7 linked regions of the Homo sapiens genome follow. The protein of the gene in region 2 purifies or fractionates together with the protein of the main gene of each other region. This does not show direct contact. Each region holds a gene or a part of one and is shown on either strand. Other genes may lie near its edges. The genes, in order: BBX, MACROH2A2, TUBA8, RSBN1, PRP4K, ZNF770 and DDX51.

The links.
Region 1: the proteins of MACROH2A2 (region 2) and BBX purify together in Homo sapiens (affinity purification with mass spectrometry; 2 studies listed by BioGRID and IntAct, with this or other methods). This does not show direct contact.
Region 3: the proteins of MACROH2A2 (region 2) and TUBA8 purify together in Homo sapiens (affinity purification with mass spectrometry; 2 studies listed by BioGRID and IntAct, with this or other methods). This does not show direct contact.
Region 4: the proteins of MACROH2A2 (region 2) and RSBN1 purify together in Homo sapiens (affinity purification with mass spectrometry; 2 studies listed by BioGRID and IntAct, with this or other methods). This does not show direct contact.
Region 5: the proteins of MACROH2A2 (region 2) and PRP4K purify together in Homo sapiens (affinity purification with mass spectrometry; 2 studies listed by BioGRID and IntAct, with this or other methods). This does not show direct contact.
Region 6: the proteins of MACROH2A2 (region 2) and ZNF770 purify together in Homo sapiens (affinity purification with mass spectrometry; 2 studies listed by BioGRID and IntAct, with this or other methods). This does not show direct contact.
Region 7: the proteins of MACROH2A2 (region 2) and DDX51 purify together in Homo sapiens (affinity purification with mass spectrometry; 2 studies listed by BioGRID and IntAct, with this or other methods). This does not show direct contact.

What each region holds. Positions count from the first base shown.
Region 1 is NC_000003.12:107,774,462-107,777,961, reverse strand, and holds part of BBX (HMG box transcription factor BBX), read right to left. Parts: intron 3,244-3,500; coding exon 3,105-3,243; intron 1-3,104. UniProt on the Homo sapiens protein: Transcription factor that is necessary for cell cycle progression from G1 to S phase.
Region 2 is NC_000010.11:70,055,846-70,059,345, reverse strand, and holds part of MACROH2A2 (core histone macro-H2A.2), read right to left. Parts: intron 1-3,500. UniProt on the Homo sapiens protein: Variant histone H2A which replaces conventional H2A in a subset of nucleosomes where it represses transcription. Nucleosomes wrap and compact DNA into chromatin, limiting DNA accessibility to the cellular machineries which require DNA as a template.
Region 3 is NC_000022.11:18,117,309-18,120,808, forward strand, and holds part of TUBA8 (tubulin alpha-8 chain), read left to right. Parts: intron 1-3,500.
Region 4 is NC_000001.11:113,802,477-113,805,976, forward strand, and holds part of RSBN1 (lysine-specific demethylase 9), read right to left. Parts: intron 1-3,500. UniProt on the Homo sapiens protein: Histone demethylase that specifically demethylates dimethylated 'Lys-20' of histone H4 (H4K20me2), thereby modulating chromosome architecture.
Region 5 is NC_000006.12:4,052,300-4,055,799, reverse strand, and holds part of PRP4K (serine/threonine-protein kinase PRP4 homolog), read right to left. Parts: intron 3,081-3,500; coding exon 2,927-3,080; intron 248-2,926; coding exon of another isoform or gene 224-247; exon of another isoform or gene 1-223. UniProt on the Homo sapiens protein: Serine/threonine kinase involved in spliceosomal assembly as well as mitosis and signaling regulation. Connects chromatin mediated regulation of transcription and pre-mRNA splicing.
Region 6 is NC_000015.10:34,981,788-34,985,287, forward strand, and holds part of ZNF770 (zinc finger protein 770), read right to left. Parts: intron 1,704-3,500; 5' UTR 1,648-1,703; coding exon 1-1,647. UniProt on the Homo sapiens protein: May be involved in transcriptional regulation.
Region 7 is NC_000012.12:132,136,094-132,138,706, forward strand, and holds the end of DDX51 (ATP-dependent RNA helicase DDX51), read right to left. Parts: 3' UTR 501-2,613; downstream 1-500. UniProt on the Homo sapiens protein: ATP-binding RNA helicase involved in the biogenesis of 60S ribosomal subunits.

The sequences.
Region 1 (3,500 bases), on a different chromosome or scaffold from region 2:
CAATATCAATCTTATTAAATTAATAAGCTTATTATTAATAATCAAGCTTATTAAATTACCATATGATATATTGGTAGTTTTGTAAAATTAGTTTCTTTAAAAAAATGTACTGACTACTGTTTGATTAAAACATACACAAACAAAAAGCATTAATACTAGGAAAACATTCTGGAGAGTGGACTAGAATGAAGACAAAATATTCAATGAGCAAAGTAAAGCCAGTTTTCAATGAATGCAATGGCACAGAGGCAACATGCTTTAACTTAAATCATCAATGACTTCAGAAATGCCACCCGTAAAGTTGGGCAATCTCTGGGCTGGTGCTGACTGTCTCTAGGGTCCCACAGCAATGGCAACATGCCTGCTGGATCCTAGGCTGGCTTCTGGCTTTCATTAGGTGAGACTTATTAAACTAACATGCAACCTAGACAGATGGAAGAGGCTGTAGGACAACTGCTGTGCCTGGTAGATGGAAAATGGAAGAAGGTGTATTGGGAAGAGGAGAGCAATTTTAGTACCAGCTTATAAGCAGTAAATGTGTTAGGCTGCTAGCTAAGGGGTGTCCTAAAAATGTTTTTAACTACAACTGTTTTGGAGGAATATACAAGAGTTGAGAAGCAGAGATAAGAGGGTCAGATGACCAACTGAATGGTCAACAGGAAATGGCAATTATGGAAGCACCCCTTTACTGGAGGGGGGATATACTCCAAGTCCCCCAGTAGATGCCTGAAACCGCTGATGGTACTGAACCTTACATATGCTACGTTTGTTCCTATACATGCATATTGTACAGTGAAATATGATAGACAAAGGTATGATTTATGCAGTGGGTGGAATGAAGTGGGATGGCACGAGATTTCATCATGCTACTCATTGTGGTGCATAATTTAAAACTTATGAGTTGTTTATTTCTGCAATTTTCTATTTAGTATTTTCAGACCCAAAACTGCAGAAAGCAAAAATATGGCTAAGGGGGAACTACTGTACTAAGTTCTGTCAAAGCAATAAAGGGTAACGGGTGGAGGTGATATTTTCCCCTTAATAACATCACCATTTCTCATTTAGTTAAAAAATGTTTATTCTGATGGAAAATCAGATACAATTGGATACTAATTAAATACTATCAGAAAGCTGTCTATAAGTTGTGAATTTTTCAAATACTCTGAATACCCAAAAGAAAACTGAAAATGTGAGACGTAACTCATAAGGTCTCTTGAGACTTTTCTTAAAAAGAGAACAATAATAATCATTTATGTTTTTCTTAGAGAAGTCTATAAAATTAGATCTGTCAATACTGAGAGAATTTTTCTTGGCTACAGTTAACAGGTAGCACATTTTCTGAGATAAAAAAAGGTTTAAAATGCTCATCTACAAATCTCAGAGCAGACTGACAGGAAATGGCATTTCTCCCTGCTTAAGTATTATACTGGCGTGTTCTAAACAAGGCAAACCCAAATACTCGAATCCTGACAGGCCAATATTTAAAGGGAGAAAGGAGGAAAAGGCACTGAAGTTTACTGTTAATTTACAGCTATAAAAAAGCATCTCCCAGTTATACACATGTGCCTTCCTCAGAAATGATTAAAAAAACAAACACATACAATCCACATACCAATCTCTTTTCAGGAACAGATTTTCAAGATTGTTTCACTTATCTTGTTCCTCAAAGAAAATTGATGAAAATCTCTCTTACAGCTTCAGCAGTTTCTAATAGAAGCATCAGAGAAATGCTTCTGTTGGGGAGCCTCAATGCTTGCTTTATTCCCCTAGGACCTCACACTGCCTACATAACACCTGCTCCTCTCTCAGTGAGCAGACCCACAAGGCAGTGGCAGTAATTCCAGACTACAGAGAGCACTGGTCTAGATGCTTGCAGGTCATTTTAAAATGATATTCTGCATTTACACTATGATTTGACACTGAAATACGAGGATTTTCATGTCATTACTTAAGCAAAATGTAAGCAAAACTAATTTGAAGTACTTTGGATTTTTAAAAATATTAGAAATGAAATACATAAAATTATAAGCAAAATTAATTTGAAGTACTTTGGATTTTTAAAAATATTAGAAATGAAATACATAAAATTATAAATATATCATTTCAATAAAAATAATCTTAAAGAGCCAGCACTATGGGAAATAATTTCTACCTCGCTACTTTGTGATGACCTAGAGCCTTAGAATTAGCCAGACTTAAAGCACTGTGACATCTAAGGAAAAATATATTATTCCACAAAGAGATATGCAAATATTATGAATAAATCAAATACAATACACCCAATGCATACAATTTGCATAGCTTTAAACACACTTTTGAAAAAATATGGTGAATATAACAATGTACTTATTTCTATTCAAAGTATTCTTTTCAAATTGAGCCGACAAGAAACCTCAAGAATTTTCAAAATAGTCTAACTGAATATGCAGATACTTTCCTCACCAGTATAAAGTATTGGATCTCCTAACTAACAAAATACTTTATATTAAGATGGTTATTAACAGTCTTTGGCATAACGTTAAATATAAAATAATTCTTAAGTGATTTTATCTTGATGCATGCCATTGCTTAATACTGCATTTCAATATATAATTAATATATTGAATGTTCTCTACAGCAGAATATTTGACCTGATATTTTTATCTTAGAGCAACAGAAGACAGCTGGAACAAAATAAAGTTGGCGATAGAAGCATAATTTCATTTACCTTACATTTTTCAGCTGTCATTTTATAAACAATAAATACATATAGTATGTAAAATGGGCAAAATGTAAACATGCTAATACTATCCATTCTAAGCTTCGGATGGAAAAATGCATCCTGGTGAAGGGATGTTGATTCAAACTCAGGTCCAAGTCTAAAGTCTATATATTTTCACTATGATCAAAATGTGAATGTTACTGTCATTCACATGACCATGTTAACAGCAGGAATGATGTGATGCACTTGATTTGTGTTCACTAGGGTGCCTACTAAGATTGTAGGAAGTCCTGAGCGAGTAGTCAAAGAACAAGCATGCGTAGTTAGTGATCTGTTTACCTTGAAAATCCCACCCACACTTGAGGCTTGTGGAGTACAGGTGACTGTGCTCACAGGCACTTACCCAAGGAGACAGTCTTCTTTTGGCTTTGTCTTCTTGAACTTCTTGCTCCCACTGGTCCCACTCTGACTAAATGTCCAGCTTTCTTCATTCCAACACCCTTCATGATCAGAGGAGTTTCCTTTTCCTGAGCTTCGTTTTCCTAAGAAAATTCAAGAGAAAGGATGTGTTTGGTATACAGGTGGGCGAGGGGAGATGATGTTAGTTGCTTCACGAGCAACCTCTTGACTGCTTGCATATCATTTGCATGAAGCTAACTGTAGCTATTTCAGAGTTCTCAGAGTGATTCATGCTGGACCATCTTTAATAATGGAACATGCAGAAAAGTGACTTAGAGCTTCTGGGATTAATTGTCATGTAATTCAACAGGTATCACATGACTCAAAGAGACAGACTAAC
Region 2 (3,500 bases):
AAGGGGAGCTGTCCTGGCTGGAGTGGGCAAGTGCCTGGGAACTTCAACAGCTTGGTCGCCACCTTTCCTGCCTTGGGCCTCCAAGGAGCACTGGGTTCTGTGGAGCCCCACCTGAGAACCATTGCACCAGCTCACCTCTGAGGTCCTCTCCAACCTATAAGATGCTCAAAACAGACTCCCTCTGAGCCCCACCTGTCACTTACATTCACAGAGATAGAGCAACCAGGATAAATAAGTCACATTCACAGGATCTGTCCTTTGAAGTTGCTATTTCTTCACCCAGGATAACCACAGAAAAGAAAAACTGGACCTGAAAAAATCTGCTTGATTTTATATCTAGGACTGCCTTTTCTTCACCCCAAAACAATAATCTACATTGTTTACTATGGAACAGCTGAGGTGAAAATTCAGTTTAGTCGTGATAGGGTTGTTGGCGGGGTGGTGGGGGGACGGGGGACTTAAGTCAATGATCACTTCATTGAAATTCTGCAAGAAAGCTCAATTTGGAAGTTTACCACTCGGGATGAGCAACCCAGTGAATTACCACCTGACCTAAAAGTTTATGTTGCATATTGTATAAGCTATTGGGGTTTGCCTTTTTGTGGTCCACCACCACTATTTAATTTTAATGGTCTTATTGAGCAGTGAAGGCAGGAGCGCAAAATACAAGTTACAAAATTCTGTGTGTGTGTATATATATATATATATAAAATTGGCAGTGCCAGCCCAGCCAGCATGGGGCCTGGGTTCCAGGGTAGGTTTGATTTTATCTTGTGCTGCTTTTATCCTGTTGTCATAGAAATATCCCAAATTTGGGCATCTAAACTCTTATCATCAGGACCGCCTTTCATATCCAGAAACAACCCCTAAATCTTTGGCCAGATCATGTGTTGTAACTTTGAGTGAATAAATGTGGTCAGTGTATCTAACCCTTCTGACATCTCAGAATCAGTTGGAGTAAATGTCTGTACACTGGTGGTCTATGCATATTTCCACACACATTTCTATCAAAGCATGAGAATTTTGACTTGAATTACTTACTCCATTCCAAGTCCAAATTGGCAATGCCAGTCAAATAAATCGGGCAAAGTATGATGGATGGTGAGATGGATAAATGAACAGTAAGGGCTTCAGAGAAACCACCAAATTTATCTTATTTAATACTTTGTGACAAGACAGCTTAAAGTACAGAGTTCTGTGGCTCAGTCTCATATTCTTTCATTTGTCATAGTTGGATAAAGTAGTGAGACAAATAAGTTTTGAAAATAAAAATTTGCCTACACAAACATTAAGCTGAGTATCATCTGAGAATCATCGGAAAGCTACCAGCTCCTTGCTCTTACCACGTGGGCATAAGGATGTAGGGCTTTGGGGTCATGCTGCCTGGCCTGGAGTCCCTTGTGTGGTGACTTTGGGGCATGTTCTTCACCATCCCCCCACCATTTCGTTTTCCTGTGATGGGTGTAGTAATAGTACCTACTTATAGGGCTGCTGTCAGAATTAAATGGGTTAATACATGTAAGGTGCTTGAACAGTACCTGGCAGGTAGCAGACATTTAATAAACATTAACTACTGTGATTTATTTCCACAAAAGAAATCATTATAGAGAACTATTTTCATGAAATGCAGTCTGACATTTTCTTGGGCATATTTCTGCCTCTTTGTCCACTCTATTTCAAAACCAACCGCTACAATTAGTACGGTACTTGAGGTTGTATGTGTGTAAAGGGGTAATAATGAAAGTTTAACTCTAGGAAAACCCTGAGAGCCACATCATCTGCTGAGAACCCTCATGACAGCAAATAGTTTTGTTTTTCCCAAGGCTGGGCACTTTCAGATCCCCTCGGTCTAATCCTGTAGTCTCCAAATTCCATCTGCCTGAATTCATAGTCATTGCAATGTTGGAAATCACAGGATTTCACAAAATCATAATCTAAGACTGAAAGGGACTTGAGTGATCAATCATTTAGCATTCTCCCACTCCCCACCCCCACCCAAATGTAGCTACAATGAAAGGAATGGCTTGGAAGGGAACGTGCTCATTGAATGACTTGTCCATGGCCTGTGAGACCAAACTAGAACCAGCCCCCTTACCTCAACTGCTGCAACTGGGCTGTTCTTCCAAAATGCTATTGCATGTTTTACCCCCAGATGCCACCTAGCATAGTGTTAGGTCACAGTTGATATTCAATAAATATTCCTTCAACTAGTGTTTGAATAAATGAAACCAGCCTTAAATATTTTGTTTCAAAAGGTCTCTTTTGTGATTTTTTGGGGGAAATGAATTATCCTCCCAAACACTTATCTTTCCCTCCAACCTAATTCCCAATATACATCCCAGTGTATATTGGGGAAAAAAATTCTATCTTCAAGATTTCACTACACTCCTTTTAAAAACATGATCTTCCAATACTATATTGGAACTCATATACTTCTCTACTGGCTCGTTTTTCTCTTTCTTCTATATATAGAATTTAAGGTAGTCACAGACTTAAATGGCAATGAAAAAAATTGTGAGGGTTCTTTTAGTTCATCCTTCAACCTGAACCTTGGCAGGGTAGGCCAGGCCAGGACTCTCAGCCTTGCAAGGGAATCTCATAATCATGTTGAAGAATGAGGACTAGCTGGAACACAGCATCTGCATCCAGCTTCCTTCCACCTGCCTCGCTCCCTTACCCTTCTTCATCCAAATCCTGCCACGTTCTCTATGAAGCCTAGCCCAACACCCTCCCTTCAAGTCCAAAACTCTCTTCTCCCTTTACAAACTACTGTAGTAAATTTTTTGTGTATATCGTTATGTATTAATTATGTATTATCATTATGTATTATCAATCACTTTAAAATTATTACTTGTATTTAGTTATCCAAGCAAGACATACATTAATTCAAATTACAGAACTTGGCCGGGCATGGTGGCACACGCCTGTAATCCCAGCACTTTGGGAGGCACAAGCTTGTAGTCCCAGCTACTAGGGAGGCTGAGGCAGGAGGATCACTTGAGCCTAGGAGATGGAGGTTGCAGTGAGCTGAGATTGTGCCAATGCACTCCAGCCTGGACAAGAGATACTCCATCTCAACAAAACAAAACAAAACAAACAAAAAAAACAAATTACAGAACTTCAAATATTGTAACAAGGTTATGGATGGGTATCAATAATGATATGGCTAAAGCCCTTCTTGACAATTCCTCTAGTTCTTGTCTCTCTTAGTGGGCATCTTCTATACTTTTTCTGTCCATTTTGTATGAATTTTTACTTATAGAGATGTATAATTTTATATCGTTTTAATATCAATAGTACCATATAGTATGTACTGTTCTGCAATTTGCTTTTTTCATTAATAGTACATCTTGGTGATCTTTTTCTGTCTCAGTATGTATAGATCTGCTTCATTCTTTTGAACTGCTGCCTAATATTCCAGAAGACAGATGCACCAGAGTTTATTTAGCCATTCCCTGTTGATGGCTGTTAGGCTGTTTTCTACTTCAGAATGACCAAAA
Region 3 (3,500 bases), on a different chromosome or scaffold from region 2:
ATTTTTATGAATACGCTGAACAAAGCAAATCAGTTTATTTGTCCCCCAAATATTTTGATTTGTTCAAACAAGAATTCAGTCAGAGTCCCCATGATGCGTGTGGTGGTGCTTGGTGGTGCCTTAGTTCCTTTGACATGGGACAGCCCCTCCCAGCTCTTCATTTCTCATGAGTTGAAAAGGCTGGGCCAGGCCCGATGGCTCACGCCTGTAATCCCAGCACTTTGGGAGGCTGAGGCAGGTGGATCACGAGGTCAGGAGATCGAGACCATCCTGGCTAACATGGTGAAACCCTGTCTGTACTAAAAGAATACAAAAAATTAGCCGGGTGTGGTGGCGAGCGCCCGTAGTCCCAGCTACCTGGGAGGCTGAGGCAGGAGAATGGTGTGAACCCGGCAGGCGGAGCTTGCAGTGAGCCGAGATCGCACCACTGCACTCCAGTCTGGGCGTCAGAGTGAGACTCCGTCTCAAAAAAAAAAAAAAAAAAAGAAAGTAAATAAAAAAAATTAAGAAAAAAAAAGGCTGGACCAGCTGCCCTGTAGGATGTCTCACCTTCTGGATTGATTTTGTTTTCTCTGATATCACTGAACTTAATTAACCCTCTGATCCCTGTGTTTCCTGTGAAGTGGAAACTGAATCTACAGGGCTCAGTGATGAGGGCTGAGTATTTTTGAGAAGAAGTCCTCACTGGTGGTGTGTGTGTCACATTGCGTCCCATCAGGAGGTCCTCGATGTCGGGTTGGCCCACAGTTAGCGATGCTGAGATTGATCGCGGCCTTAGGCTGGCGACCCTGGTAGTTACGTCCCCCCTTGTGACTATAACAGTGGTTCTTTGGCTCTCGGCGAAGATCCAGTTCCCCATCAGTCTTTCACCTAATGGTGTTGGCGTTCTTGTCCAAATCAATCACGTAATTAGAAGATGGAATAGGGCAATATTTGATAATCTATTATTCGGTCCACATTGCTTAGCAGACATTCTTCAATTAAAGAAAAAAGAGCCTTCTCTAACTAACGGGGCTGTCTGGATAGGGACAAATGAGTTTTTCTCTGGGGGTTTTCTTTGAGGACTTGTGGGTTTTCATCTTGCATCCTGCTTCACTCAAATGCTGCCATCAGTACTTGTGAGGCTCAGGTTGTCTCATCTTAGGCAGCAGGAGCCTCTTCAGGTGCTTGGGCAGCCCCTTGGTTAGCCTCCGTGCCTCCAGGCGCTATGCGACATTCCAGGCTCATCTAGCACACTCCCCACCCTGGACCTGGACGCCTCCGTCTCTCCAAGGAGCCCAGTTCCTGTTAGCAGGGATCTTCCTTCTCTCTTGATTGGTGTAGCTACTTTTCACTTTTGAGAGCACCTATGAATCTGTCAGTCATTTCTGAGTCTATTTTATGCCTCCAATTATTCTTATGAGCTAGTTCAATAGGAAAAATAGCTCTTTCTAAGGGGTGTGTGTGTTTGCACGACGGGGGCGGGGGAGAGAGAAAGAGACAGACATTTTGTAAAAGACTGGCATATGTATTAGTGTGAGATTAATGAGGGCATTAAAAGAGGCTAAAGACGTTGTCACCATGCTAGTGGTTTTCAGGTCCCCCAAATCCTTGACTCTTCCTCCCATGATCTTCGATTTTCCCAAAATATCCCTGCGTCCTCCCTGGAAAGCCCCAGAATGTTCCAGAAGTGAGAGCAGGCTGGGGGCCGGGCAGCACTGTAGGCAGGACTAGAGGGTGGTCGGGATGCGGTGGTGGTGAGGGGGCGACAGACCCAGAAGGCTGAGGGTTAGGACCACAGAGGACACTGTCACTTAGAAGGAAAATACATAGGATCAGGCCCCCCTCGGGCCTCTCCAGTGTCCCCTCAGCTTCCACACCTCCCTGGGAAGTCACAGCCACATGCTGAATGTGACGCCGTGGTCTGGGTGGATAACTCGCTGGTTGTGGGTGGTTTCTGGATGCAGATGCTGCTTTCCTTAGGCCTGAATTGAGCCCTCAGATGGAGGCAGAGAATAGACCCCACAATAAAGGAGAGAGGAGCAGGGACCTGAGAGCTCCCTCTACGTGTGCTACTTCCCGGTGCAGAAAAATGCTACCAGGTAGTACCGTAATGAAAATGATAATGGCAAGACAGCATCAACAACTGTGGCTAACTTACACTTTTCAGATGAGGAGAGGCTCAGTAACTCAGCCCAGGCCACACAGCACAGCAAGTAAATTGAGAAGGCAACATGGGAACCTGGGGCCGTGGGCAGCTCTGTGGGTGAATCCCCTCCCTAGCCACCAGGCTCACGGAGATCCAGCGGGTTGCGACCCCCGTCGGGCTGCCCCACGCTCACCCCTGTGCTCATCCTCCCTCAAGGCAAGGACCAGGTGTCGCTCAGCTGTAGCACAGAGACAGGACTAGAGTGGGGGCACAGTTGTAAAATTGAACTAGGGGGCAATGGTCCTGATGCTCTGACCCCGCAAGATGCTACTCAGGGCAGCTGCCCTGCTCTCCATGCCCAGAATTTCTTCCACGTCTCCAGGAGCCCCACACTTTGACGTGGACTCTACTGGCTTCTGTGCCCAGCCGTGCCCTCTGGAGGCTCTGCCCCTGGCTTGGGTTACCCGGAGCTGGAAAATGCCAGGGCAGGTCATGGGTAAAAATAGAAACCCACAGACCTGGCACATGCTTCCTGCTGGGCTCAGGCGGCTGCCCCAGGCACAGTGTCGCCTTGTGTGGGCCACTGCTTCCCCAGGGCAGGGTGTGGGTGGGAGGATGAGTCTATCACGCCTACGTGTGCACGTGCACACACACACACACACACTGTCTCTCTCCCCACCCCCCTTTTTCTTTAATAATTTCAACTTTTATTTTAGATTCAGGGAGTACATATGCAGATTTCTTACATGGGTATATATTGTGATGCCAAGGTTTGGGGTACGATTAATCCTGTCACCCAGGTAATGAGCATAGTACCCAATAGTTAGTTTTCCAATCTTTGCCCGCTTCTTCCCTCCCCGCTCCAGTAGTGCCCAGTGTCTACTCTTGCCATTTTTCTGTCCATGAGTACCCATGTTTAGCTCCCACTTATAAGAACATGTGGTATTTGGTTTTCTATTCCTGCATTAATTTGCTTAGGATAATGACCTCCAGCTGCATCCATGTTGCTGCAAAGGATATGGGTTCATTCTTTTTTGGGGGCTGCGTAGTATTCCATGGTGTATATGAATGACATTTTCTGTATCCAGTCTACCATTGCTGGGCACCTGGTTGATTCCGTGTCTTTGCTGTTGTGAATAGTGCTGTGATGAACGTGTGAGTGCAGGTGTCTTTTTGGTAGGATGATTTTCTTTTGGATATATACCCAGTAACAGGATTGCTGAGTGAAATGGTAGTTCTGAGTTCTTTGAGAAATCTCCAAACTGCTTTCCACAGTGGCTGAACCAATTTACATTCCCATCAGTGCACTCCCCATCTTAAGCTGTTAGTACGAATACCAATCAGGCAATTGTGGCTTCACATCAGCTTTACT
Region 4 (3,500 bases), on a different chromosome or scaffold from region 2:
TTCTATATAAATACCTGACTAAAAAGGAAAAACAAAAAACTACTCATTTTGAAAGCCAAACATTTGTGAATCATTGTATGTTTTTAACACTGCCTTACTTTACCCACCATCTCTCTATATTATGGTGTTTTAAGAGCGCTGTCTAGGTTTAAATCCCTGTTCTATAACTTTCTAGTATACTTTCTAGAAGTATACTTTCTAGAACTTTTTTTTCCCTAAGCCTTTACTTTTTTTTTTTTAGAGCAGTTTCAGGTTCCTAGAACTATAACCACACCTGGCTCCCACAAATGCATAGTCTGTCTCCCTGATTATCATCACCCCCAGCCAGAGTGGAATACTTGTTACAACTGATAAGTCTACATTGATGCATCATTATTCGCCTGCCCGCAGTCCATGGTTTACATTCAGGTTCACTCTTGTTGTACATTCTGAGGGTTTGGATAAATGTATGACATGTATCCACCATTAATTAAGTTGCATAAAGAGTAGTTTCACTGTCCTATAAAATGCTCTGTGCTCTGCCTATTCATGCAACCCTCTCTAAAACCCCTAGCAACCACTGATCTTTTAACTTTCTTGATAGTTTTGCCTTTTCCAGAGTGTCATATAATTGGAATCATAAAATGTGCAGCCTTTTCAGGATGGCTTCTTCCACTTGGTAATATGCATTTAAGGTTCCTCCATGTCTTTTTATGGCTTGATAGCTCATTTCTTTTTAGCACTGAATAATATTCTACTGTCTGGATGTACCACAGTTTATCCATTTACCTACTGAAGGACATTTTGATTGCTTCCAAGTTTTGGTAACTATGAATAAACCTATTATGAACACCTATCTACAGGTTTTTGTGTGGACACAAATTTTCAGCTCCTCGGGGTAAATATCAAAGAGTATGACTGCTGGATCGTATAGTATGTTTAGTTTTGTTAAGAAACTGCCAAACTGTCTTCCAAAGTGGCTGTATCATTTTGTATTCCCAACAATAATGAATGAGATAGCATATCTTTTTGCAAGTTAATTCTTTGCACTGCTTCTCATTGGTAAAACCGGAGGAAAGAACAGTATCTCATTATAAAATTAGTGTGCAGAGTAAATGAAAAACGCATGTGAAGTACTTATAATAGTCCTAGAACATAATAAATACTCAATACATCATAACTACTATTATTGCCAAAAACAGTTGAATTCTAGAGGCAGTAGAGTGTACTATTTAAGATAAGAACAGGTGCTGTACTGTTAGATAGACCTAAGTCAATGTCCCAGCTCTATTGTTTACTAAGGTCTCTGGGTAAGCTCATAAATCTCTTTAAATCTAAATTTTCTCATCTTAAAATGTTATAATAGGCCAGGTACAGTGCCTCATGCCTGTAATCCCAGCACTTTGGGAGACTGAGGCAGGAAGACTGCTAGAGTCCAGGAATTCAAGACCAGCCTGAGCAACACAGCAGGACCCCATTTTTACAAAAAAAAAAAAAAAAAAAAAGTTAGCTGGGCTTGGCGGTGCATGCCTGTAGTCCTAGCTGCAGGAGTGAGCTAGGCTTAGCTACAGGCTGAGGTGGGAGGATCGCTTGAGCCCAGGAGTTCGAGGTTACAGTGAGCTATAATCACTTCACTACACTCCAGCCTGGGCAACCCCGTCTCAGAAAAAAAAAAAAGTTATTAATTCTAGAGTCTATCTCACAGAGTTATTTTAAGAATTAAATGAGACAATGACTATAAGGCCCTCATCACAATATGTGACACACAATAAGTCTCTTATCATCTTGATTATCAAGAGAAACACATAAGAAAGATCTCTGAAAGAGGAAAGAAAACGTATTTGCCAAATGTCTAATAGGGACCATATATGTTATTTTATTTTAATCCTCAAACCAATGAAGTACGGAGAAAGAAACAGCCTGAAACAAGATATGTAATTTATATTAGGTCACAAAGCTAGTACACAACAGCCAAGATTCAAACTTCTCACCTATCTGACTCCAAAACAAATTCTTCTAACATACTGCACCCTACACTCTCTTCCTTTCCGCCTCCACTATCAGACATCTCCCTGCAACACTCCCATTAGATGATCAACTAAGATTATCTGGTTACAATTAATGGACCTGAGGTAGCTTGGAATAAAGGGAGTATTACTTCAACAAATATCTTACTTAGTGCCATTTCAAAAGTTTTCGTGCCCTTAAAGGTGTTTTTGCCTCTCTCAGGGTGAGCAGGGAAAAATATTAGTCCCTACAGTTGTTGTTCTGATAAATAAGATTGTTTATTTCAATTCCCTTATAATCCCAATAATTCTCCATTGCTAACATCAAAAAGAAGTGTTTCTGGACTTAAAATCCCTGCTTTTTGACATGAGAGAAAATTTCCATTAAACATCTGGCTCAGGAACACTTACACTCGGTGATAGCAGTTAGGCAACTGGTCAAGAGTAAAAAAAAAAAAAAAAATGAGATAAGAAAGATGACTCACAAGAGCATACATATGAGCAATCCGGTCATGTAATGACATTGGAGAAGACAGCCTATGGGGGCTGTCCTTCCTTTCTTTCCTTTTTAACAACATATTAAAATCATGAATTTACTAAGAATAATTAAAAAGAAGCATTACTTCTTTTCATGGATTTTTAAGGAAGTATGTTTGTCCTATTTTTTTTTTTGAAACGGAGTCTGACTCTGTCGACCAGGCTGGAATGCAAGTGGCGCAATCTCAGCTCAGTGCAACCTCCGCCTTCCAGGTTCAAGTGATTCTCCTGCCTCAGCCTCCCAAGTAGCCCAGCTAATTTTTTGTATTTTTCGTAGAGACAGGGTTTCACCATGTTGACTAGGCTGGTGTCAAACTCCCGACCTCGTGATTTGCCCACCTTGGTCTGGGAATACAGGCATGAGCCACCGCGCCCGGCCTGTCCTATGTTTTTATGAGCAATAAGAGGGAGAGAAAAAAATTAAGATTTCAAAACACATAGGTAACCTCCAGTTTAGTTACACTCAAGCTTATTCCCTATAAGAAATAAAAACAGCATTTAAATATCTCTGTTAAATAATCAACCCCAGTGTGCATAGCAGAAAGAGAGGTCAACTGGGCCATGAGGGAAAAAAATTGAGTTCTGTATTCAGCTCTATCACCAACTAAAAAATTTTAAGCATTTCACTTCATCTCTCTGAAAATCACTTCTTTCTGTTTTAAAGATGAACAAGTTTACCCTAGCATTTACAGATTAAATTTTTGTTTCAACTGTTTATGAACAACTCCAAATGTCTGAGATTGTAATAATTTGTAATTAGTCTCCACATGAATTCAGATTAAATACTGTTGAACTGCTGTGCAGGAAGGAACATGTCTCTTAAGTGAACTCAAGGGTGGCAAACTTCTCTAAAGAGCCGAACAGCAGGCTTTGCAGGTCTTATGGTCTCTGTCTCAATTACTGTATTCTGCTACTGTAGTGCAAAAACTACCATAGACAATATATATGAATGAACAGAGCTATATTCCAATAAAGCTT
Region 5 (3,500 bases), on a different chromosome or scaffold from region 2:
AATCCCTCAAATATAAAGAAGGTATTAGTCAAGAAAATGTTAAATATATCTGGCAAAACTGATAAACATGAACTCTATATTAGTCATTTGTTTCTTTTTTCCTTTGTAAATACTTCAACATACACAGTAATAGTGACATCTGCTGAGAAAGGCTGGAGTTGCTCCCATGACTGCTGCCACTCATGAGTCAGAGGCATGTTCAGGATTAACAAGTGAAGATAATTCATATTCCAGAGTCCCTTCCCCCCTTCAAAAGAGACACACACAAATTCCGAGTTGGGACTTGAACTTGGCCTACTGCTCCCACCCCAAAGCAGCATAACACTATAGCCTTAGGCAGTCTCTATGGGGAGACTGGACTATTATAAATGATATCCAGAGTTAAGCTATTAATAGGAACAGAAATGATTATTTTTAACTCCCACATTGATTACTATTCTTTTCATCTTGGGAATCAGAAAAGCATCTTAAAATAGAAAAGTTATTTTAAAACTTTTTAAAGTGTAAGCTGAATTCAGCTACTTAAGCAGTTTCAATACCCACAGAAAACTTAAGAACCATTTTAAAATTAGAATCCATCAGTGGAACTCTTGGGCTGGCTAAAATGCCTTAAAGAATAGCAGGGTATCCATACTCATATGCACTTCAGTTTGCTACACAACTTCTGCTCCTGTCATGAGGAATGTGGTACTTAAACCACACTGATACCTGAAATTACGAGCTAAAGGCTTTGGATTTTCATTAACAAAAATCAGCTCCGTCATTAAGGTCTATTTTTTCCTTCCCCAGGAAGACGGGAAAACATTTCTTAAATGTATGTGAAAACCTATACTAGTTTAGCATTAGGTTTTAAAAACAAGAGTTTCTTCTGTGACACTGGCAAATGTGTTATTCTTTAACCTCCACAATGGTCACAAAGACGCTCACTGTAAATGACCTTTTAAATTGTACATGTTTTGCATATTCTTTGACATGAACCATGTATTTCACAATTAAAAAACAAAAAATTGGCTCACGCTTATAATCCCAGCACTTTGGGAGGACGAGGCGGGCAGATCACGAGGTTAGGAGATTAAGACCATCCTGGCCAACATGGTGAAACCCCGTCTCTACTAAAATACAAAAATTAGCTGGGCGTGGTGGCCCCTGCCTGTAATCCCAGTTACTCGGGAGGCTGAGGCAGGAGAAATGCTTGAACCAGGGAGTTGGAGGTTGCAGTGAGCCGAGATCACGCCATTGCACTCCAGCCTGGTAACAGGGCAAGGCTGTGTCTCATAAAAAAAACTGAGGTAAAAATCAACTATGAAATTGGCCACACAAATTTATACTTCATTTTTAATGTACCTACCATTTCAATGAAATTACTCAGCTCCCCTAACTCCAAGTTACATTAGATATACAATACAATAATAATTCAGACCAAACATAAAAATGGAATACACCTCATTACTAATGTGGTTGTCTGGAAGGAAATAAAGGAAATATTTTAAGATATTAACAAAAAAGAAAAAGAAATATGAATTAAATAGCTTAGTTATTGATTAAAAAAAAACTCCTTAAACTTTAATGAGATCACCATTTTTTAAAGAATTTATCTTGGCCAAGCATGGTAGCTCACACCTATAATCCCAGCACTTTGGGAGGCTGCAGCAGGAGGATTGCTTGAGCCCAGGAGTTTGAGACCAGCCAAACCTCATCTCTAAAAAAAATTTTTTTTAATTAGGCAGTCACAGTGGCATGTGCCTGTGGGTAGTCCCAGCTACTGGGGAGGCGGAGGCAGGAGAACTGCTTGGGCTTAGGAGTTGGAGGTTACAGTGAGCCATTATGGCACCACTGCACTCTAGCCTGGGTGACAGAACAAGACCTTACCTCAAAACAAAACAAAACAAAACAAAAAAAACAAAAGAAAAAATCAAAAGTATTTATTTTGTTATAGCTCCAAGAGTTCCCAATAAAGAACACCTTACACGCTTAGCTTTTAGTCTTCAGGATCTCTCCTAGGCATCAACTGTAGGAGAACTGATAAAGAGAACCCATTTTAAAAAAATGAAATGCAGAATGTTACCAGCATATAAGCTGGAATTCTCCAAGTTGCGAACACGACCCAAACTGAAGGCCACAAAACAGGGTAAAGTAATGGGGCCAGGGAGGGGAGGAGTGTGTGTGTGCATTAATCACATCACTATGATAATATGTATGTATTTCAAAATTTTAAAAACATATACATTGTGAAATCTGCTGTTACCACCAGAAGTCACTAGTCGAAGAGAATTAAGGTTTCAAAAGGTGAGAACACATGGACACACAGGGGAACAATACACACTGGGGTCCGTCAGAGGCTGGAGGGTGAGAGATGGGAGAGGATCAGGAAAAGTGGGTACAAACCCTCCATGACACAAGTTTACCTATGTAACAAGCCTGCACATGTACCCCTGAACTTGAAAGTTTAAAAATAAAATAAAATAAACTTCAAAAGCGATGCCTTTAAATATAATACCTAACCACAACTGAGCTTTATTGTGTTTGAGCCCCCAGGAGCCACAGCTTAGGGAGCTATAAAATTAGCAAACAGAAGAGTACGGACACTCCTTATTTCAAAACAGCAACATGTGCAGCATTTTTCTAAAGATAACAGAAGAAACTCATTACTACAGTAAAGCATTCCAGGATTGGTGCACACTTTAAATCTATCAGTCAAAAGAGAAAAAAAGGGACAATTGTACATTTCCTTTTTCTTCATACTTGTCAATAAAATTTCACTGTCCGATTTCCAAGAAAGATAAAAAAGTATTAGTCATTTGAAATAGGTTATTAATATACTGAACTATGCTTCTAAGATGTCGTTTCTCATAGTAATAATATTACTGCTAGTAAGAAGTGAAATGTATGTTCAAGATGTACAGCGCAGCTTGGCTGTTTGACTTACCAGGATATTGTCTGGCTTGATATCTGCATGTAGGATATTGCATCTTTTAAGGAGTTTCAATGCCAGGAACAACTGCTGACTATAGGATCTTACAGCTTTAATATGAAGACCAACATCTTTACCATATTTTTTTAACACCTCTCGTAAGTTCATGCTTTTAGGAGAAAATTAAAAAAAGAAAACAAAATAGGAGTTAAAATGCAAAATGGAAATATAAAAAGGCAAAAACATTTGCAAGCATAAAGTAAAATCAAGCGCAAAATAAAAATATGTAAGAACCACCCCCACATTTGATAAATCATTTTATATTGAAAGGAGAGCATATCAAATTGTATGTATATAACACAGTTTCTGAATAAATTCAAATTTTCTAAATAGGTAAGAAGAAAGATATGCAAGGTAAAACTCCCATTTCGATTTTAGAATAGATTCACATCTGAAAACACAACAAAGCCACACTGTTGAAGATAAAAATTCCTTCCTTGAAGTATTTCATTTTAAGAGAGACTCTCTGTTGAACCCGGGAGGTGGAGGTTGCAGCGAGCCAAGACTGCACCACTGTACTCCGGGAGGA
Region 6 (3,500 bases), on a different chromosome or scaffold from region 2:
TGAATGATTAGAAAGATTGTTGAAGTTTCCAAATTCTACTTGGCAAAGAGATGCATAAGGACTCTTTTCATTATGAGTCTGTTCATGTCTTTTTAAGTGAGCTGACTGTCTAAAAGATTTCCCACAAATATTACAGCCAAAGGGCCTCTGTCCAGTATGAATTAAATAGTGTCTTTTTAGTTTGGATATAGAAGGAAATACCTTCTCACATTTGTCACAAGGACATATCTTATGTCTAGTACGTATGTTTTCCCTTGGAACTGAAAAACCACACTGAAGTACCTCACAGTTATTAAAGAATTCCTCACCTGATGAACCACAGATTGACAAGTCTTTCTTATTCACTGAATTATCAATGCTTAATATGTTTTCTGTCGTAAGGATGCCTTTCAAATTTTTTCCCATATTTTGCCAAGAAAATGGCAAAGTCAATGTTTTCTTCTTTCTATTGCCAATTGTTTTATATGTTCCATGTTTGCCAAGAGAACCCACAAATGTTCTCTGGGTTTGTTCAGAGCTCTGCTCACCAGAAATAAGATCACAATTTCTCAAGAAACTCTTTTTAAATACTTTTTTCTCAGATTGAAAGTTATCTAATTTTTTACTCCTAGCACGCTTAAGCTTGGCCAAGATTTTTTTAACAATGGTTTTATAGTTGTAGCTTCTTTTGAACCTGCTTGGAATTTTGCCACTTCTAGCAGCAAAACAGCTGTGTTCATTGAGAATCTGCTCTGATTCAAAACACTTTTCACACTTTGGACATTGAAAAGGGACAATATAAATTGAGTGGACATCAAGTGGATTATTCTCCTCAGATTCACCAATCTCACCATTTTCAAAACCACCCTGATTTGCATTTAACTTATTAGGCAGGGGGCGAGATTCTGTACGCCTCTTCTTTAATAAAAGAGCCCGAAAAGCCTTATTCCTAGTATGGATTTGTTTATGCTTCAGAAGTTTGCTTTGAATCTTAAATCCTTTTTGACAAAAACAACATTGAAAAGGTCTTTCTTCTGAATGTGTAAGTTGGTGGATTTTTAAGTGAGTTGACTGTCGAAAAGATTTAGTACACAAGACACATTTAAAAGGCCTCTGACCAGTATGAATAAGTACATGCCTATCAAGTTTTGACTGTGATGGAAACATCTTGCCACAGATTGTACATGCATGAATATTCTTTCTTCTTTTCATGCTATACATGGGATCAGACTTAGAGCACGGGTGTAATGCCCATCTTTCCTCTGTGGTAAAAGTATTATACACTCCATACATTGACTTTTCTTGCTTGGCCTCCAGCAATCTTCTGACCTGTTTAACATTATTCTGATAGGTTTCATTGTGAAGTTGTTGGTGCTTCACAAATGTCTTCAGATTTTTAAAGTGACGCTGACAAATACTACATTTAAAAGGCAGACTATGAGTTAGTTGATGCCTCTCCAGATGAACTAGTTGTCTAAAGGTTTTATGACACACATCACATTCAAATGGCTTTTGACCAGTATGAATGAGATAGTGCCTAGCTAATTTTGATGGTGTTTCAAAGTGCTTAAAACAAATATTGCAAACATATGGCCTGTTTCTAGGTAGTTTGTTGGCTACCACACACTGTTGAATCTTTAGCATTTTTAAATTGTTTTCAGCCATCATATTCTTCAATGATATACTCTGATGAGCTCCATACTGTTCTTAAATTCCACAGATGTCTAAAAATTAAAGGAAAAAAAGTATTAATTTTAAAATTATTTATTCATATGAAAAGTAACTTAAGTTGTTCTTTGGCTGAAGATATTAAAGGCAAAGGAGAATCTGGACTTAGTGTTTACAAGTTAATAATCATTTTAAGTAATACTTTAGAATAATAATACTAATTTTATACATACAGAGATATGAGTCTTTAAAAGAAATATCTAAAAATCAATACAATTTTAAGCTATTTTTCTAATTGAGATGCTACATTAAATGAGGACTAGGCTGAATTTCTTAACATGAAATAGATATTTTAATTCCAATTTTCCTATTTCATTATTAGGTAGATTTGCCAGTATTTAGTTGCCATCATTTTAAAAAATGGGCTAGAAAGGTAACAAATCAAAACATAATACTAAAAATAAGATATACTTGCATTCAATTATAGCACATTGTAAATATGCTCTTAGAATAGAACATTTCACTTATCATAGGTGGATTTCTTAGCCACAAATTTAACATGAGTTATTCTCAATTACTTCTTTAGACCAACAAGGACAGTGTGGACTAGGAGAAAATTCACAGAAGACCTGGGTTCTAGTCCTGGATTTGCCACTATACGATCTTGGTGGTAGGAAGAAGGAAATACAGAGTTCTCATCTGTAAAATGGGGAAAAGGTCTCCTGGATTGTCTACCACCACAAGCTGTTGTCAAAAATCAATGGAGATAATGTATATGAATGTGCTAAAAAACAGTGAAGCAATACATAAATCTAAGGAACTATTTAGCTCAACACTAATCAAATTTTAAAATGTTATCCTTATCGTCTTAGTAACATTTTTAAGCGTTTCTCAATAAGAGATAAACCCACTGACTAAATTTACAGGTTTTAAAAATTTCTCACCTGGCGCCGTGGCTCACGCCTGTAATCCCGCACTTTGGGAGGCTGAGGCTGGTGGATCACCTGAGGTCAGGAATTTTGAGACCAGCCTGGCCAACATGGTGAAACCCCGCCTCTAGTAATAATACAAAAATTAGCCGGGTGTGGTAGTGCACACCTGTAATCCCAGCTACTCAGGAGGCTGAGGCAGGAGAATCACTTGAACCCAGGAGGCAAAGGTTACAGTGAGCCGAGATCGTGCCATTGCAATCCAGCCTGGGTGAGAATCCATCTCAAAAAAAAAAAAAAAATTCTCCTTTTCACTTTGTTGTGAAATTCCCAAAAGACAAGCATAGAGGTAATAAGATCGACAAATTGGTTACTTATATAGCTATCTATGACTAAGTAATTGAAACTTGAGTGTGCTTTGCCCATCAGGCAATATAGTAAAAGGGTCATTTTGGTCTTAAGCGTTAATATAAAGATTTAAAAAACTGGCCCAGTGCAGTGGCTCACACCTGTAATCCCAGCACTTTGGGAGGCCAAGGCAGGGAGATCACATGAGGCCAGGAGTTTAAGACCTGCCTGAACAACGTGGCAAAACCCCGTCTCGACTAAAAATACAAAAATTAGCCAGGCGTGGTAGTGCACATATGTTAATTCCAGCTACTTGGGAGGCTGCAGCACGATAATTGCTTGAACTGGGGAGGCGGAGGTTGCACTGAGCCAAGATTGCACCACTGCACTCCAGCTTGGGCAACAGAGCGAGAGACTGTCTCAAAAAAAAAAAAAAAAAAAAGTTTAGCAAGCACTTTCATAACTATCTTATACTCTATCTTCTATCAGAGAAGCCAATTTTCTTTTCATTATTACTTTACTATGGCACTGCCCTTAAATAAAGGAGTCAGAGATTTTTTCAAAAAAAAATTAAAA
Region 7 (2,613 bases), on a different chromosome or scaffold from region 2:
CCGAGTGTGCCCACGGTGCCCGCTCCTCCCACCTCCCCGAGTGTGCCCACGGTGCCCGCTCCTCCCACCTCCCCGAGTGTGCCCACGGTGCCCGCTCCTCCCACCTCCCGAGTGTGCCCCGGTGCCCGCTCCTCCCACCTCCCGAGTGTGCCCACGGTGCCCGCTCCTCCCACCTCCCCGAGTGTGCCCACGGTGCCCGCTACCTCCCACCTCCCGAGTGTGCCCACGGTGCCCGCTCCTCCCACCTCCCGAGTGTGCCCACGGTGCCCGCTCCTCCCACCTCCCCGAGTGTGCCCACGGTGCCCGCTCCTCCCACCTCCCGAGTGTGTGGCCAGGCCCACATCTTATGTCTGCGAACCCAGCAGCACTGAGCCACTATCAATCCCCGATAAATGGCAATCATCGTGAAGCAGCCTTGTGGTCTGGGGTAAATACCAAGGTTCTTGGTCTCATGGCCAAGGAGATCGAGGTCGCAGACAGACACACACACACACAGTGAGTTTGGAGCAGAAGTTTAATAAGCAAAAAGGAAGAAGAGCTCTCCGTTGCAGAGGGGGCCTGAGCGGGTTGCTAAGTTGTAGTAAAGATGTCAAGGTTTCTTTTTTTTCTGTCGCCAGGCTGCAGTGCAGTGGGCTGATCTTGGCCCACTGCAACCTCCACCTCCCGGGCAAGTGATTCTCCTGCCTCAGCCTCTTGAGTAGTTGGGACTCCAGGCACACGCCACCACGCTCAGCTAAGTTTTGTATTTTTAGTAGAGATGGGGTTTCACCATGTTGGCCAGGATGGTCTCGATCTCCTGACCTCAGGTGATGCGCCTGCCTCAGCCTCCCAAAGTGCTGGGATTACAGGTGTGAGCCACCGTGCCCGGCCTGTCAAGGTTTTTACAAATGGGCTAGTGACGAGGGGTTAGAGGAGGGATGTCTTGTCCTCCCAGGGCCCAGGGTTTTAGCTGGGACAAGGTGTGCTATTTGTATAGAGAGTTTCTGTCAGACTCAGTCTGTGCTGCTCTGTGACACTTTTCTGCGAGGGTCTCTGGGTCTGCTCCCAGACATCTTCTTGGGGTTACAGGCACCCCTCAGTCTGCTTTTAGCTTCCCTTAGTGCACCTAAGGGGACGGGAATGTGCTTATTAGGGTCCACTGTTTTACTGGGGCCCATTGTGGAAGTGTGAAGTTTGGTGATCACCCAGGAGACACCCCCCGCACTCCTGTGCCCGAGCTGTCTCATCTGTGATTCACAGTCTGCTCTTTCTGGCTGCTTGTCGTGAGAAGTGATTTTGAACCCCGAGGTTAGAAAGGGAGCTATTTTTGAGCTGCTTTTTGTTAAAAGGCAAATTTTCTGCTGGGGACTGGCTTTACCCCGTCTACCTAAATCATTTCTTTCTGCCTCCTGTAACAGTCGCCTTTTGTGTTCTGCTGGCATTTGTTTGAACACAGTCCACAGGTTCAGTGGTTGCATCTCTAATCAGCTGCCAGTCCCCATCCCAGACATTCTTTGCATCTAAGCTGAGGTCTGAACTGAGTGGGGTGGGCTGGTGTTTCCATCCTCACAACTCCAGTGAGCCGGGTGTGGCCGTGGCCTGCGTCTCCCTGGCGGTTAGTGATGTTGGCATCATCCACCTTTTTCAAACAAAGCACTGGACTGAGAGAATTCACACACTGTATCCACCCAGTCCATGGTTTTTAGTAAAAGGTTTATAGAGGTGAGCAGCCATCACCACACACAACCTAAGAACATTTTCATCATCCCCAAAACAAACCCACACACTGGCCACTGTGTCCCCAGCCCCAACCCCCACCAACTCCCGGCCCCGGCACCCTTCAATCTCTGGCTGTGCCTGGGACACTCCCTATAGCCGGAGCCTTCCTTCAGTTAGCGTCAGGTTCCGGGTTCATCCACGGGGTGCCTATGCTGGTGCCTCACTCCTTTTTCTCTCCTGGTGTGGATTTCCCACGTTTTATTCTCCATTCATCAGCTGACGGACATGTGGTTTCTAGTTTTTGGCTACTGTGAACAGTGCTGCTGAGAGATTTGTGTACGTTTCTGTGTGGATGTAGGTTTCATTGATCTGGGGTGTACAAGGTGCATAGGAGAGGAAGTGCTGGGTCATGAGTGACTCTGTGTTTAACGCCCCAAGGCTTTGCCCAGCTGTCTCCACGTGACCTTCCCACCAGCAATATGTGAGGTGTCCACTGAACAGTCACAAGGTTCACAAATCTGGGGAGGAGAGCTTTTTTTTTGACGGAGTCTCACTCTGTTGCCCAGGCTGGAGTGCAGTGGCGCAGTCTCCGCTCACTGCAAGCTCCGCCTCCCGGGTTCACGCCATTCTCCTGCCTCAGCCTCCCGAGTAGCTGGGACTATAGGTGCCCGCCACCACGCCCGGCTAGTTGTTTTTTTTTTTTTTTTGTATTTTTAGTAGAGACGGGGTTTCACCATGTTAGCAATGATGGTCTCTATCTCCTGACCTTGTGATCCACCTGCCTCGGCCTCCCAAAGTGCTGGGATTACAGGCATTTGCCACCGCGCCCGGCAATTTTTTTTTTTGAGACGGAGTTTTGCTCTTGTTGCCCAGGCTGGAGTGCAGTGGCGCAATCTCAGCTCACTGCAACCTCCA